3 linked regions of the Homo sapiens genome follow. The protein of the gene in region 3 interacts with the protein of the main gene of each other region in a pairwise test. Each region holds a gene or a part of one and is shown on either strand. Other genes may lie near its edges. The genes, in order: ZNF394, SEMA4A and DDX54.

What was found.
Region 1: the proteins of DDX54 (region 3) and ZNF394 interact in a two-hybrid assay, tested with the Homo sapiens proteins (one large-scale study listed by BioGRID).
Region 2: the proteins of DDX54 (region 3) and SEMA4A interact in a two-hybrid assay, tested with the Homo sapiens proteins (one large-scale study listed by BioGRID and IntAct).

The regions. Positions count from the first base shown.
Region 1 is NC_000007.14:99,494,960-99,497,459, reverse strand, and holds part of ZNF394 (zinc finger protein 394), read left to right. Parts: intron 1-2,500. UniProt on the Homo sapiens protein: May be involved in transcriptional regulation.
Region 2 is NC_000001.11:156,152,198-156,156,384, forward strand, and holds the start of SEMA4A (semaphorin-4A isoform 1 precursor), read left to right. Parts: upstream 1-1,387; 5' UTR 1,388-1,567; intron 1,568-2,350; exon of another isoform or gene 2,351-2,352; 5' UTR 2,353-2,381; coding exon 2,382-2,520; intron 2,521-4,187. UniProt on the Homo sapiens protein: Cell surface receptor for PLXNB1, PLXNB2, PLXNB3 and PLXND1 that plays an important role in cell-cell signaling. Regulates glutamatergic and GABAergic synapse development.
Region 3 is NC_000012.12:113,168,276-113,172,004, reverse strand, and holds part of DDX54 (ATP-dependent RNA helicase DDX54), read left to right. Parts: intron 1-2,100; coding exon 2,101-2,235; intron 2,236-3,729.

The sequences.
Region 1 (2,500 bases), on a different chromosome or scaffold from region 3:
GCCTGTAATCCCAGCACTTTGGGAGGCCGAGGCGGGCAGATCATGAGGTCAGGAGATTGAGACTATCCTGGCTAACACGGTGAAACCCTGTCTCTACTAAAAAATACAGAAAAAAGAATTAGCCAGGCGTGGTGGCAGGCGCCTGTAGTCCCAGCTACTCGGGAGGCTGAGGCGGGAGAATGGCGTGAACCTGAACCTGGGAGGCGGAGGTTGCAGTGAGCCGAGATCGTGCCACTGCACTCCAGCACTCCAGCCTGGGTGACAGAGCAAGACTCCGTCTCAAAAAAAAAAGAAAAAACATTTTATATATATATATACATATATATATATATATATACACACACACACACACACACACACACACACACACACGTATGTATGTATATACATATATATACACATATATATATAGGCTTTGGTACTATACACAATTTCAGGCATCACTGGGGGACTTGGAACGTGTCCCCACAGAGAAGAGGGAACAACTGTATGTTCATCTTGCTCTCCAAAGAGCCCATAACTAATGTATATGCCACCAGCAATACTAATAATTTTTCTTTCTCCATATTCTTGTCAACATTTGCTGTTGGCTGGGTACGGTGGCTCACACCTGTAATCCTAGCACTTTGGGAGGCCCAGATGGGAGGATTGTTTGAGGTCAGGAGCTCAAGACCAGCCTGGGCAACATAGCGAGACCCCATCTCTTTAAAAAAAAAAATTAATAAAAAAAATAGTAATACATTTTGGCCGGGCGTGATAGCTCAGGCCTGTAAATCTCAGCACTTTGGGAGGCCGAGGTGGGCAGATCATGAGGTCAGGAGTTCAAGACCAGCTTGGCCAACATAGTGAAACACCGTCTCTACTAGAAATACCAAAAATTAGCCGGACCTCTGATGCCTGATGTGCAGGGGCCCTGGCACCCTGCTCACCCACCCATCCCTTCTGCTGCCCTTTGCCTGCTCTGGCCACACTGCCTTGCTGCTCCAAAATATGCCAGGCCCCGCTGCCTCCTGGTCTTTGTGCTATGTGACCGCTCTGCCTGGAATATTCTACTCTACTCTGTAGGAAGCAAAGTTTCAGGGCTTTGCTCAAATTGCTCCCTTGTGCCGGGTGTGGTGGCTCATACCTGTAATCCCAGCACTTTGGGAGACCGAGGTAGCTCACACCTATAACCCTAGCACTTTGGGAGGCCGAGGCAGGTGAATCACTTGAGGTCAGGAGTTCGAGACCAGCCTGGCCAACATGGTAAAACCCCGTCTACTAAAACACCTACTAAAATACCTACTATAATACCTACTAAAATACCTACTATAATACCTACTAAAATACCTACTATAATACCTACTAAAATACCTACTAAAAATACAAAAATTAGCCAGGCCAGTTAATGGGCACCTGTAATTACAGCTACTCAGAAGGCTGAGGCAGGAGAATCACTTGAACCTGGGAGGTGGAGGTTGCAGTGAGCCGAGATCACGCCATTGCACTCCAACCTGGGTGACAGAGTGAGACTCTGTCTCAAAAAGATAAAATAAATAGGCTGGGTGCAGTGGCTCATGCCAGTAATCCCAACACTTTGGGAGGCCAAGGCAGGTGGATCACCTGAGGTCAGGAGTTTGAGACCAGCCTGACCAACATGGTGAAACCCCATCTCTACTAAAAATACAAAAATTAGCCGGGTGTGGTGGCACGTTGCCTGTAATCCCAGCTACTCTCAAGGCTGAGGCAGGGGAATTGCTTGAACCTGGGGGGCAGAGGTTGCAGTGAGCTGAGATCACTCCACTGCACTCCAGCCTTGGCAACAAGAGCGAAACTCCATCTCAAAAAAATAAAATAGCTGGGTGTGGTGGCTCACGCCTGTAATCGCAACACTTTGCAAGGCCGAGGGGGGTGGATAACAAGGTCAGAGGAGTTCGAGACCATCCTGGCCAAGATGGTGAAACCTCGTCCCCACTAAAAATACAAAAAAATTAGCCGGGTGTGGTGGTGGGTGCCTGTAATCCCAGCTACTTGGGAGGCTGAGGCAGGAGAATCACTTGAACCTGGGAGGCAGAGGTTGCAGTGAGCTGAGATCATGCCACTGCACTCCAGCCTAGGCAACAGAGCAAGACTCCATCTCAAAAATAAAATAAGATACGATAAAATAAAATATAGGCTGGGTGCTGTGGCTCACGCCTGTAATCCCAGAAGTCTGGGAGGCCGAGGCAGGCGGATCACGAGGTCAGGAGTTCAAGACCAGCCTGGCCAATATGGTGAAACACTGTCTCTACTAAAACTAGCAAAATTAGCACCTGTAATCCCTGCTACTTGGGAGGCTGAGGCAGGAGAATCACTTGAACCCAGGTGGCAGAGGTTGCAGTGAGCCGAGATCATGCCACTGCACTCCAGCCTGGGCAACAGAGTGAGACTCCATCTCAAAATAAATAAATAGCAACAGAGTAATACTCTGTCTCAAAATAAATAAATAGGGAGGCTGAGGCGAGCGGATCATGAGGTCAAG
Region 2 (4,187 bases), on a different chromosome or scaffold from region 3:
CTGATAGTGTGAACTATTCATATTGGCTAGAGGGGCTGGGGAAGAGGACGTCCGGAGTTGGGAGAATTCTGGATGTCTGGAGGAAGAACTGGGGGCAGGGCATGGAGTCTATGACTTCCAGAAAGGTGGGAATAGGACATCAGGCTGGGAGTGTAGGGCTGGAACTCCCCCAGCCTCCCCGTATCAGAACTCTTCCCAGTGACCCAAATGAGCCAATCTGTTTAAGCAGAGAGGCCCAGGGGCAGACTGGCTTCCCAAATCTGAGCTGGGGGTTGGGGAGACACAGAAGGTAGGGTCTGGATAAATGGGAGTTTCTCTTGATTCTAAGAAACTGGAAGGGACCTGGCAACCAGCCTCTGGGAGAGTCTGGGGGAGTCCTAGGCAAGTCTTGACAGAAACGATTGTCAGGCAGGATATGTCTGAGACCAACCCCCGGGGAAACTGAGAGAGATGAAAGAAGGCTGAGTACCTCAGATGAGGAATTATAAGGAGTAGCCTGAGCTGTAACATCCCCCATGTTGGCTGGTGCTGTAGCAGGAGGGATGGAAGTTACACTACAGGAAGGACTTCCTGCCAGGGAGGAATGTGCATGTCAGATGGAAGTGGATTATTTATTAGAGTTGGATTAGCCCTGGGATGTCTGTGCTCTTTAACCTGCAGTCAGCTGACCATGTCGAGTGGGCAGGAACCTACCCACTTTGTAGGCCACAGAGTTCTTGGCGCTGGATGCCTCATTAACCCCGCGTTATGAGGCTCCCCCTGGAGCCTTTAGGGAGGGGTGAGCAGCCACCTTTGGGGGTTGGGTGCCTCCAAAGTGTGGTCCAGTGAGCACGAGTTCAGATGGGAAATGTTCTGGGCTTTCTACTGGCCTGATTTCTGGGCTTCCTATTGGCCTGATGTCAAAGAGTGATGGAGATTAGACTGCAAGGGGGACTTCCTCAGCAAAATCATGGATAAGAGCCTAATACAATTATTTTATTTTATTTTTTTAAAGACTGTGGCCCAGCTGAGAGTGGGAGGTTTAAAGGTTAGACCACTGCAGGGACTTCCCAGTAGGTAGGAGTAGAGAGACCCCACCTTGTGGGTAAGTGAAAAGAAGAATATGTCATGTCCCCTATCTGGGAAATCTTAAGCAAGAGAAGAAACCACTGCTAGGCTGGTTATACTGGCTGTGACATGATGGAGAGGCAGGGGAATCGCTGAAATGACCTAGAAGGGCCTCTTAAACTTTCTGGTTGGACCGAGCAGAGGAGGGAGAGAGAGGTGTGTCTCTTGTGAGGTGGGTGAACGTCTTTTTATTCCCTCCCAATCCACCAACTTCCGCCCAAGCCAGGATCTGTCACAACTCGAGAGGTGGAAATTCCGGTTTCCCTGGCCTAGAGCTCCCAGTGCTGGCTTTGGCATGATGGGCACCTGGAGGGCCGCACTCCCGTTCCAGCCAGGCTGAGCCTTCTGTCCCCTGCCTCTGGGGCCTGGGAACCCCCCTTCTTCTTTCTCCTGAATGGCACCCCCGCCCTAGAATCCAGACACCGAGTTTCCCACTGTGGCTGGTTCAAGGGTATGTGAGGTGAGATGGGTGGCTTGGGGTGGGTGGTCTTGGGGAAGATTATGTAGAGGCCCAGGGAGGCAGACACAGGAGCAAGAGACAAGGGGGCCGGGGAGCTGCAGAGGCTGGGAGCCGGCCAGCCACCCCTGCCCAGGCAGCTCCCCGGGAAATGCTGATAACCAACCTGGTGGGATGGACCCTCATTGCCTCCCTGGAAGTATCAGGCCAGGCAGGCCTGAGCCTCAAAGACCCTGAACCCAGCTGGGGCTGGGGGAGAGGTTAGAGCAGGCAGACTCAAACCCAGTCTGCCTACCTGGGTCAGAGCTGAGTATGAGGCACAGGTGTCAACAGATCTGAAAGTGACAGGAGAGTAAGGTCTGAGGAATTTATATTTTGGGTACAGGAACCTGCTCCCCAAAATGTTCCCTGCCCAGAGCCAGGCAACGGTTTGGGCTTGGGCTATGAGAAGAGGGAAGGCAAAGGAGGAAAGACAGGAAAGACTTCCTGAGAGTAAGGCAAAAAAAGGCAAACCAGAGCTGTTGGTGAGAAGACAACAGAAGAAGCAGGATAGGGGAGACCTGGGCTCCTACCCATAGGGGACAGTGAGGTGACAGGCTGAGGCCTGGAAGGATGATGAAAGTGAGACCGTCTTAGGGCCCTTCCAGATAGGGAACCTTCTCTGCCCCAATGCCCCACCCCTGCCACCAATACACACGCTTCTGCTGCCTGGGGCTCTCCTATTGGTCCTCGGGGGGATGTGGTAAGAACTGCTCACCCAGAAAGTGCCCGGGTGCCTGTTTCCCCAGAGCTCCCTGGTGACAGTCTGTGGCTGAGCATGGCCCTCCCAGCCCTGGGCCTGGACCCCTGGAGCCTCCTGGGCCTTTTCCTCTTCCAACTGCTTCAGCTGCTGCTGCCGACGACGACCGCGGGGGGAGGCGGGCAGGGGCCCATGCCCAGGGTCAGATACTATGCAGGTAAGTGTCCGACAGCAGGAAGTGTGGGGATAGCAATAGAGAGCTGGAGGTGGGTGGAGGAAGGAGAGAGGAACAGAGGAGGGGAGGAAATGGATATGGAGAAACAGGGACACAGAGAGAGATGCCAGGGAGAAACAGAGGATCTCGGAGAAAGAGAGACACAGCCAGAAACAGAAGTCCAAAAGGAAAGAAAAGCCACTGGAGAGCAGATTGAGGAAAACAGGTGGCCACGGGGCCAGGGGCACGCTTCTTCCAGTTCTCCATGTTGGTAATTTTTCTTTCCTTCCTTAAATATCACTGTCACCAAGCTGGGCACCTCAAACTCCTAACTGCTTCACACTCCCAGGTACCCCAAAGTCAAGGCCCATGCTAGAAGACCATATGTGGACCCGGTGACCCGGAGCTCGCCAGGCCCATGCCAACCACATAGATCATGCTGGACCATACCATGTCCAGGACCATGGGATGGCTGGTTGGAGAATGGGCCCTGGAACCCACACACAAGCACAGCTTGGCTGGTTTCTTACTGAGACTGTGGAGGCTGCTGGCCCCCTCACCTCCAGGGAGAAGACTCAGGAAAGGATGTAGACACTGTAGGAGTTGTAGGTGACTGGGCATGGCTGTGTCTTTAGCATCTTTCTGGGGCAATTGGTAAAAGAAATGTATATTGCTCATTGATGCAGAGACCTCCTCTGTGTTGGATGCTGGGCGCACAAACACGGATAAGCCTCAGCCCCTGCCCTCAAGGTGTTCACAGTCACAAGGGGGAAGACATGAGCAATCAGACCATCAATACAGGGTGATCTGTTCAGCAACTGAGGGGTTTATGGCAGCTCTGGGGGAGGCCTGGCCTCCAGGAGATGCTCCTCCCTGAGGCTGGCCCTTCCATCCCGCAGCCACACCAGATTCCCCAACTTCTCCCCTCTGTACTGTGTAAGATTCCCTGAGCCTGCAAAGGTATCAATTAGCTAGTCAGCTTTCTAACTAATGCAACAGTGCAAGTGCTAATGAGAGAGGATCTGAGGAGCTCCTTCCTCCTTGCCGATGTGCCAGTGGGACAGGAAAATACACCCCCACCCACCCCACCATGCCAAGGTCATGGAGAGGACCTAGGTGAGCCTCCCACACCTGGCTCACCATCCCTGCCCAGGGGACATCCAGCCATGCCCACATGGATCTTTGAAGAAAAATGCTTCCTCTCTGTTCGTGGTGACTCTACTGGTGGGAATTTCCTTTAACAGAAGAGGAAGAAAGCAGGGGTGGTTGGGGGGATGGCGAGAGGGACTCTGACATACGCCCTCCTGTCTGCATATAGCTTTGCTGCTTGTGGCTGCCAACACTTTCCTGTTTGTCTGTCTGCCTGCTGCTCCTCATCCTAGTGAGGACCAAGGCGTCCTCCCCGACGGTAGCCCTCCCTGTCCCAGGCCTGGAAGAGCATCCACTGTGCCTCACTTTATTTCCCGTCCCCATTACCCTGCCTCTGGCTGCCTCTCCTCTCTACTGCGGGCTCAGCACACAACGCTCTTGTGTTGGGGTGGGGTGAAGGGAAGAACTGCTGGTGGAGGAGAGTGCATCTAGCTGCCAAGGCCTGGGGAGCACACTCAGGCAACCCTTCCCCTTCCCCCACTTTTATCTCAGGAGTCAGCTGCCTGCCCACCAAGTCCTCA
Region 3 (3,729 bases):
TTAAAATCGGCTATGTGTGGGATGATTTTGCCCAAGGGTAGGCTAATGGAAGTATTTGGAGCATGCTCAAGGCAGGCTGGCTGAGCTGCGATGTTTAGTGGGTTAGGTGCCGTGCGTGTGTTTTTGACGGCTATTGGGTTTATTGAGACGCAGCCCTTCGTAAGTCACGGAACAGCTGTGGTCTCATTTCAGAGATCACTGTCCCCCATTGCTCTCTGATGACATGGCCGTCATTTTGGTGTGTGTCCATTCTTCTGATGTTTCTATTTTAAGTTGTGGTAAAGTAGACATAGCATGCAATTCAGCATTTTGCCATTTCCCAGTGTGCAGTGGAGTGGCATTGAGTCTGTTCCCATTGTGCAACTGTCACCACCATCTGTCCCCAAAACTTTTTTTTTTTTTTTTGAGAGTCTTGCTTTGTACCCCAGGCTGGAGTGCAGGGGTGTGATCTCGGCTCACTGCAACCTTCACCTCCCAGGTTCTAGCTATTCTCTTGCATCAGCCTCCCGAGTAGCTGGGATTACAGGTGCTCGCCACCAGGCCCAGCTAATTTTTTGTGTTTTTAGTAGAGACAGGGGTTTCACCATGTTGGCCAAGGTGGTCTTGAACTCCTAACCTCAAGTGATGCATCTGCCTCAGCCTCCCAAAGTGCTGTGATTACAGGCGTGAGCCACCATGCTTGGCCCCAGAACTTTTCCATCTTGCAAAATTGAAGCTCTATCCGTCAGACAAAATCTCCTTATTCCCCTCCCGCAGCCCCTGGTAACTGTTATTCTACTTTCTTTGCCTTCTTTTAATTCATAAGTGTCATGTGGTGGGTGCACTTCCCCCTTGTTGCTGTCTGCTGTCCCCTAGTTTCTGTTGCTGTGTGGAGAGCTGGTTCTGCATGTCCCTAGGGAGGTCCCCAGGACGCCCCCAAAGGGAATTTCTTGTGCCTCACAAGACCAACAGTGCCGGTCAGACAACCTCAAATGAAATCTCCAAATGTCATAACACCTTGTTTTCCCAAGATACAGAGACAAACCAAAATATAATGCTATGTAGTGATTTAGGTACTTCATGCAAAATTGCAATCATATTGGGTGTTCTTTTTTATAACTGGCTTTTTGTTTTTTTCTTTTTACATCACCATACATCACGAATGTTTTTCGTTTACTATGAAATGTCATTCTGTGATGGGTTGGCACATCTTTTCTGTAAGGGGCTAGACATGAAACGTTAGGCTTTGTGGACCATACTGTCTCTGTCATAACTGTTCATCTCTGCTGCTGTCGTGTGACTGCTGCCTATTCATTTATATAGATAATATATAAACAAATGAGTGTGGCTGTGTTCCAATAAATCTTTATTTACACAGACAAGCAGGGGGCCGGGATCTCACTCTGTTGCTTGGGCTCTAGTGCTGTGGCATGATCATAGCTCACTGTAAGCTTGAACTCCCAGATTCAAGCAATCCTCCCAGCTCAGCCTCCCAAGTACTTAGGGCTACAGGCACACACCATCACATCTGGCTAATTTTCGTTTTTTGTAGACATGGGGTCTTGCTATTTTGCCCAGGCTGTTCTCGAACTCCTGGCCTCAAGTGATTCTCCCACCTCAGCCCCTCAAAGTGCTGTGATTACAGGCGTGAGCCACCAGCCTGGCCCTGTAGGCTGCAGTTTGCCCACTCTTTTCCTGAGCTGTTTAATTCCCACTGTGTGGCCATCAGCTAATTCACTTATCTAGTCCTCTACCCTTGAGACTTTAGTTTCCAACTTGGGGCTGTCCTAGTCAGGGCCACACTAAACCTCCTTGTGTGTGAATCTTTACATCTTTGCGGGGAATTCTCAAAAGTGGGGACACTGAAGAGTTTTGATCATGCTCATGAGCAGGGCCTTGCTGTATTTTTGCTAGTCTCCCAGAGCACTGTGTCAGCTTGGGCACACTCTCACAGATCAACCTAGGGACCGGGATTAAACTTCCCTGTGCGTAGGTGGGGACAGCAGCCGTGTGAGGTTCGAGGCTTGGCCAGGCTCACCTGCTCAGGGTCTGGCCTGTGGAACTCATGCTGGGTCCGGGTCCTTCTTTGCTTAATTAAGCTTGAACGTCTCCTTGCTGCAGGCCGTGTGGCTCGGGCTGGCCGAAGTGGCACAGCCTACTCCTTGGTGGCCCCTGATGAAATCCCCTACCTGCTGGATCTGCACCTGTTCCTGGGCCGCTCCCTCACCCTCGCCCGACCCCTCAAGGAGCCCTCAGGTGAGTGGAGGCTGGGTGGGGATAGGGGTCCCCGTGGAGTTCATGGGCCCTGTTTTGGCTGTGGGAGGAGGTAGGGCTGGGTTTGACCCCAGCAGAAGATGATTCCTTTTATTTATTTTATTGTATTTTATTTGTTTTGTTTATTTTTTGAGACAGAGCCTCGCTCTGTTGCCCAGGCTGGGGTGCAGTGGTGTGATCTTGGCTCACAGCAACCTCTGCCTCCCAGGTTCAAGCCATTCTCTTGCCTCAGCCTCCCGAGTAGCTGGGACTATAGATGCCCGCCACCACGCCTGGCAAATTTTTTATTGTATTTTTAGTAGAGACAAGGTTTCACCATGTTGGCCAGGCTGATCTCGAACTCCTGACCTCAAGTGATTCGCCCACCTCCCAAAGTGCTGGGATTACAGGTGTGAGTCACTGCGCCCGGCTGATTCCTTCTATTTTTTAACGAGACGGGGTCTTACTCTTGCTCAGGCTGGAGTGCAGTGGTGCGATCATGGCTCGCTGCAACTTCCAACTCCTGGGCTCAAGCAAGCCACTATGCCTGGCTAATCCCTCTATTTTAAACTCAGGATTTCCCACAACAATCCAGATTTCTGGTATCTACTGGGAAACAGTTGGATCTGGGTGCTAAGCTGTGGCACCCCCATTAGACAGGCTTCCTGGTCCCCTGCAGCCCCTGCCTGCCTCCCCTTCCTGTCAGTGTGGCCTGCCCAGCCCCTGCAGGCATCTAGTGTGTGACCCTATACTTGATGAGTTTTCAGGGGAGCGCAGCGGAGGGAAAGAGAGGCTGAGGCTCATTCAGACCAAGCCCACAGGACATTTTTAATTTATTTATTGAGACAGAGTTTCGCTCTTGTTGCCCAGGCTGGAGTGCAGTGGTGCAATCTTGGCTCACCACAACCTCCGCATCCTGGGTTCAAGCGATTCTCCTGCCTCAGCCTCCCGAGTAGCTGGGACTGCAGGCACACACAACCACGCCCAGCTAATTTTGTATTTTTAGTAGAGACAGGGTTTCACCATGTTGGCCACGCTGGTCTTGAACTTCTGATCTCAGGTGATCTGCCCGCCTCGGCCTCCCAAAGTGCTGGAATTACAGGCGTGAGCCACTGTGCCCAGCCGCCCACAGGACATTTCTGTATACATCCTAGAATGGGAATGCATGGGACAGACAATAGCAATCACCATGGCCTCCATCTGTGGGCCTCCAACTATGGGCCTCCACCTGCAGTCCTGCTGGTTCCCGGGCCCTGGACACATCTTGTCTCATTTGTCCATCTGTGCTAGAGGGAGGGCTGTCATCACCTCTGCTTCACAGATGAGAGAACGGCTCTGACAGGCCTACCCGCATGCACACAGCAGGGAGGTGGGGAGCTGAGATTCAGGCCCCCCCAGAGGCCCAAGACTCAAGCTCAGAGAGCTGAGGCGGCTTCCTCCGGACAGCCTAGCCAGTGGTCAGCAGAGAGCGCAGCCCTCAGAGCTCCGGGCCCCCTC